Regions from separate parts of the Homo sapiens genome. Here region 1 is linked to region 2. The links come from fine-mapping of genetic effects on gene expression. A gene starts in region 2. The other region holds a variant in brackets. All regions are shown on one strand. Distances are from middle to middle.

Region 1 (2,918 bases), 180 kb after region 2:
AAAATCTGAGAAATACTGAGAAAAAAAGAGATATTGAGAAAAAAATCCTGGACCAGATATTCAAACATCTCATAATTTGATAGATATGTAACCTTAACATACAGTAAGTAGTGTCCATGCTACATCACAAAAATGTTGTCAGGATAGAATGATGCCATGTCTGTGAAATGTTTTGTATAAGGCAATTAGGTATACTTAGGTAAGGTGTTTGCATTGTTTATACCGAATTAAGCTATGATGATTAACATTCTGGTGAATACTACTTTCTTTCATCTGTTTTTCATATTGCCTCAACCCAATTAAAAGTATATTTAGCTTGTACCTCATAAAGAAAAGTTCATTTGCTTTTCCTGATGATGAAAGTAATAAATATCTATTATAGAAAATTGTTAAAAGTACACACAAATATAAAAATAAAAATTAAGTGTAATGTTGTAACCAAGAGATAACAACTATATCAAAAAAGAGCCACACTTATATATTCTTATATATGTGTATATAGGTGTGTATCTTTATAAACTGCTTTGTTCACTTATCAGCGTATCTTTTGCATATTCGTATTCCCCAGTTCTATTTTTGCTTCCTCAAGTGCAGCCACAGTATTTTGACTTCAGTTATGTCTCACTAAGCATGTCATACTGTGCCTTGGGTAGAATAAATATTCAATACATTGGCTTTATTCACAGAATGACTTAAAGCCTTTTGATTGTTTAAATGTAAAATTATGTGAAACAGAATTTCTGTCTTTAAAGATCACAATTGTGTTCTTATTGATGAATTGAGGCCACTCCATGTAACTGTGACTTATTTTTCCTTTTCCTTTCCCTTCTGTTTAGTTTGTTGCCCAGCCCAATTGTCAACAGCTGCTGGCATCTCGCTGGTACGATGAGTTTCCAGGCTGGAGGAGAAGACACTGGGCAGTGAAGATGGTGACATGTTTCATAATAGGACTTCTTTTTCCTGTCTTCTCTGTGTGCTACCTGATAGCTCCCAAAAGCCCACTTGGACTGTTCATCAGGAAGCCATTTATCAAGTTTATCTGCCACACAGCCTCCTATTTGACTTTTTTGTTCCTGCTGCTGCTTGCCTCTCAGCACATCGACAGGTCAGACTTGAACAGGCAAGGTCCACCACCAACCATCGTCGAGTGGATGATATTACCGTGGGTCCTGGGTAAATGTGTTACTATAGAAAATATAATAAAAACATGTTACTGCCACGGAATTTCGTTGCTCAGAAAATATTCATTAATGTTTGGGACCTAGGAATGTTTAGAATAGGTTCTGACTATTGTAGCTCCAAGAACCTCACCCCCAAAGCCAAACAACTATTTTACAAGCTGCGGTGGACCCGCTTACAAAATCAGCTTAAGAAACGTAACCTTAAATTTTAGAATTACAGATTTTAATGACTTCATATTCCACGACTGACCCTCTGAGTTTTTTGTTTATTAAAACTTTTCAACATATCTCATTGACTATATGTAAATAATCATTCTAATATTCCTAATAGATAAGTCTTCTAAAAGTACATGCAGATTACTCTGAAGAATTAGTGATTCTATACATAAAGTAACTGAAACCTTTTGAAAAAATCAATCCATTCAAATTTATCTTTGAAATCTATATTAATTTAAAATAACAGGAAATTAAACAACAGGATATCCGCCACTCTCTTTTTGTTCTTGTCATAGAAAGTTGTATTGGGTCTGAAGCAAATCACTGTGAAGTAGAAAACCTTAAAGTAGCTAGTGAAAATCTTGTTTTCCC[G/A]CCGGGTGCAGTGGCTCATGCCTGTAATCCCAGCACTTTGGGAGGCCGAGGCGGGCGGATCACGAGGTCAGGAGATCGTAGCCATCCTAGCTAACACGGTGAAACCCCGTCTCTACTAAAAATTCAAAAAGAAATTAGCCGGGCGTGGTGGCGGGCGCCTGTAGTCCCAGCTACTCGGGAGGCTGAGGCAGGAGAATGACGTGAACCCGGGAGGCGGAGCTTGCAGTGATCCCAGATCACGCCACTGTAGTCCAGCCTGGGCGACAGAGTGAGACTCTGTCTCAAAAAAAAAGAAAGGAAAAAAATGTAGCTAGTGAAAACCTTGTTTTCCTTTCTCCTTGTTATTATAGCCATGGTTAAAATTTGCATTTTAATTATCCTTTTCTCTATCATACTATGGTTTGCTGAGAAATCACATTTTCTCAATTTAGCTCATTATTTTAAACCTCTCTGCTATAATATCTATCTCATCATTTGGCTATTAGAAAATATGTGACAAATTTCATGATTCAAAATCTCAGAATATCAGTTTGGGTTAACTCTCAAAACTGCTGAAGAAACTAAAATGACATCAAGGCAGAAAAAAAAAAGACAGCCTATTTGAGATAAATATGTTTTTCAGTTTTAAAAATTATAAAAACCATACTTTAAGTATTGTCAATAAGAAAAGTTAATAGGGACAAGATTTGATGTTTTACTTATATAACTAAACAAAATCCTCAGGTGAACTTTAAAATAGAGTAGGTTCTCATTAATCTAAAGTGGGTAAAATGTGATCTTGTTTAAATTAGAAAAAAGGGTCAGGCCGGGCAGGACACAGTGACTCATGCCTGTAATCCCAGCACTTTGGGAAGCCAAAGCGGGCGGATCGCTTGAGATCAGGAGTTGGAGTATCACCCATCTCTACTAAAAATGTGAAAATTAGCTGGGCATGGTGGCCACAGCCTGTAATCCCAGCTACCTGGGATGCTGAGGCAGGAGAATAGTTTGAGCCTGGGAGGCAGAGGTTGCGGTGAACCAAGATTACACCACTGCACTCCAGCCTGGGTGACAAAGTGAGACTCTGCCTCAAAAAATGAAAGAAAAGAAGAAAAATTAAAAAGGCTCACATAATCTATAAGTGTCCGAAGTGTCCTTTGGAATAAAATA
Region 2 (2,918 bases):
GCTGAATCAGGCGTCTGCTGGGATACAATCAGAGACCAGCAGCTAACCTCAGGGCTTTCAGAAAATAACGGCAATCAGGTAGAAACAGAGTCTCGAGGAGGGTAATTGCCAGCTAGGATTCCTCAAGGGCTCCACTCTCTATCTTACACGTGAACTCTATCTTTCTCTGGGTCATGGGGTCACAACCAATTAAGACTTTCCGAGTGACAAGCTGGGAATCACCGTGTTGCAGTTACAGCAAGTGTTATTGCCAACTTTGCCAATAGTGTGTGTGTGGTTTGTGTGTGTGTGTATTCCTCTCTGTACTTTAATCTTATTTTCATATGTGAACACTAAAGAGATTGGACAAGAGATAACGTTTATCTTGAAATCTCACTCTCAGTAAGATGGTACCAGTATCGCACACACACACACTCGCACACACGCACATCACCTGCAGCCGCAGAACCTTGCACCCTTGGGCTGGCTCGCGTCTTAGGGTTTTGGTATATTTGGTGGAAACTTGCTGATTTCCTATGCCTTTTGGAAAGACCAAGCTGGATGAGGGTGGTTGGAACGCTGTGGCTCATCATTTATTCATTGCGACTGTTTTGATTGTTGACACTAGTGGCAAGCCGCATCCTCCAGCTCTTGCAAGGGAAGTCTGACACCTTGAGGACAGGAGAGGGGGTGCCAGTCGCCCAGAGAAGCGGGAGTGGGAGAAGCTTTGAGAGTTGCAGGGGACTACTTTTTTCCGGTCGGGCGGCGGGCCTCATGGGTGCTTGTTTACCGGGCTGGGAGCAGGGCATTCAAAAGCTGGGTGTCGGAGCGCACTGAAGTCCAACACGCCTGCAGAGACCGCCCTAAGCCTGGAGGTGTGTCTGGCTTGCATCCAGAACCACAGGGTGGATTCTCGCCACCGACTTGGCTGGATGACGGCTGGCTGGTGGTGAGCTCCCCTGCCCACTGGCTGACCTCAAGCAGTTGGCCCCGGTAGGTGGAGGCTATTCGAGGGGGACAAGCTGGGGACGCAGCGTCAGCTCCTGCCAGCGCGCGGGTCTCCTCCACCTCCAAGCAGTGTGGTGCGTGGGACGCGCATCTTCCCGGACTATCCCTTTCCAGCGCGGTCTGTGCGGACCCCGAGCCCGGCAGCCACCAGGGACGGAGGGCGGGGTGCCTTTCTCTGGGCTCATCCGCTGTCAGCCGTGGGAACTCTTAACTTTATCCAGAGGGATCTGTGCAGGCGGGGGTGGGAGAGGTTCTCCTCCCCTGGCGGTTACCTCCCCCTCCCGGGCCGCCCCTCCCCCGCCTCCCATGGCTTCGCTTTCAGAGCATCCTCACTCCGCCCAGTTCGGTGCCAGCTGCGTGGGCTCCAGCTTCGATCGTTTTCCTTGGAATGCTCCAAAACTCAGCAGCGACTAAGGGAATTCCATTGGAATTTGCCGGGCGTGCTCTCACCCCGCACGGCACCCGCGCCGTCAGTCCTCGGATCCCATCACTTCAGCCCGAAGATTGCAACTTTGCAGGTAAAGAGGATGTCGCCTCGGGGCTCCGTTCGACCGGAGCTACACCTCGCCTTCTTTCTGGGATCTCGGTTAAGTTTCCTAAGCTGCCTGGGAAGCCGGCTCTCTTCTGGGAGGCGGACATCCCTGCGGGGTTAGGAGTTCAAAAGGTTCTGGCTATGTGGTTTCTCTTCAAGGCTCAGGAAAAAAACCTGTGAAGCTTTCGGTGCTTGACTCGGGCTGAGCAGGAGTTTGGGGGTGCTCCTCAGTCTTCCGCCGCACTCGGCTTTAAAGCAGGGGAGAGGGCGAGGAGTGAACCCCCGGTGTGACTTATATGGTAAACAAAGGAGCTGCAGCCACGCCGTGGTGCTGGGGAATGTGGCCGTTTTTAGCCTTTTATGCATTTGGGGAAAATGGAGATCTCGGGGGCATCTGGGTGCATATAAGTGAGGCCTTAGCTCTCCGGCACTTAAAGTAGGGTAACGAAGGAAGGAGAGTGATCAATGTTCTACCGATCGATTACATTCTGCGTCGTTTTCATTCTCTGTCAAGAAACAGAAACACTTTTATCCGTGTTGCCCGACCCAGGCTAGTGATTCCTAGTTCGCCTGGCAACCGAGATTCCAATGAAGCCAATGAAGCCAATGACCCGGTTTGCTACTTGGTTAAATCACTGGGATTCACTGCACAACTTGTTGTTCCAGCTGTGAAGTCAGCTGTCTTTTGCGACTAGAGACAAGAGAATACTGGAAAGGCATCGAGGGTTTAGGAGAGCTGAGGAAAGGGATCTCTTATCTTGTCTGCCTGCATTCACTATGGTGTATCCACTATGGTGTATCCCTGTTCACATGGCTTCTTAGAGAGGCCCTTCCCAGTGAAATTCCATAGCTATAAAATGCAGCAAGTTGCTTAAGGAGTAAGCACCAAGCCAAAGGAGTAGGAAGAGACAGAAGGAAGCTTTAGTTGTTTTATTAAAAAAAAAAATAGACAGACTTGTAAAACTTTTTCAGTTTTAATAAAACACCGCCTCTCAGAGCTCATATAATTTCTGCCTTTCCTTTCACAGTACATAATCACAGCACAAAGAATATTACAAATTCTTTAAGCAAAAGGTTTACTGGAGGGTTTTTTGGTTTGGGGTGTTTTTGGTAAAACTCTAAATTAGACATTGAGAGTAAGAGTGGGTGGAGATGTTAAAATGTTGAAATCTTCATCATTGTGTTGGGTTTGCTATTTAAAGTTACATTTGTAGCGCCTACTTTCTTATTCACCTGGACACTATTGTCCAGAAAACATCCTCCTTAAATGTTTAAGGGGGGAAAAAAAACAATAAGATCAATTTCAATTTACTTGCTCACTGGTCATTCTGAAAGATATATGAGTTGGAATAGATTTTCATTACTTATAACCTTTAAAATTTTGTAATGGTTATATTAT

Alleles and levels. Alleles are on the strand shown, and positions count from the first base shown. SD is a standard deviation of normalised expression in the study named.
For the expression in lung of the gene that starts at base 1,328 in region 2, A is the low allele of the variant in region 1 and G is the other (small effect, 0.21 SD a copy in GTEx).

Evidence for each region. PIP is the estimated chance that this variant, and not a neighbour inherited with it, causes the effect.
Region 1: its variant is the best candidate, but not a certain one, in a credible set for the expression of TRPC4 in lung (GTEx, PIP 0.64).

Annotation. Positions count from the first base shown.
Region 1 is chr13:37,690,254-37,693,171 of GRCh38, reverse strand. It overlaps TRPC4 (transient receptor potential cation channel subfamily C member 4), which reads left to right. Exons shown (of 11, transcript NM_016179.4): 4 at 837-1,173. Among named protein-coding and RNA genes, the nearest start is that of POSTN, 93 kb to the right of the region's middle. The variant G/A (reference allele first, on the strand shown) is at 1,770.
Region 2 is chr13:37,868,182-37,871,099 of GRCh38, reverse strand. It overlaps TRPC4 (transient receptor potential cation channel subfamily C member 4), which reads left to right and starts at 1,328. Exons shown (of 11, transcript NM_016179.4): 1 at 1,328-1,505. It overlaps LOC124903160 (a long non-coding RNA gene), which reads right to left and starts at 1,957. Exons shown (of 2, transcript XR_007063762.1): 1 at 434-1,957.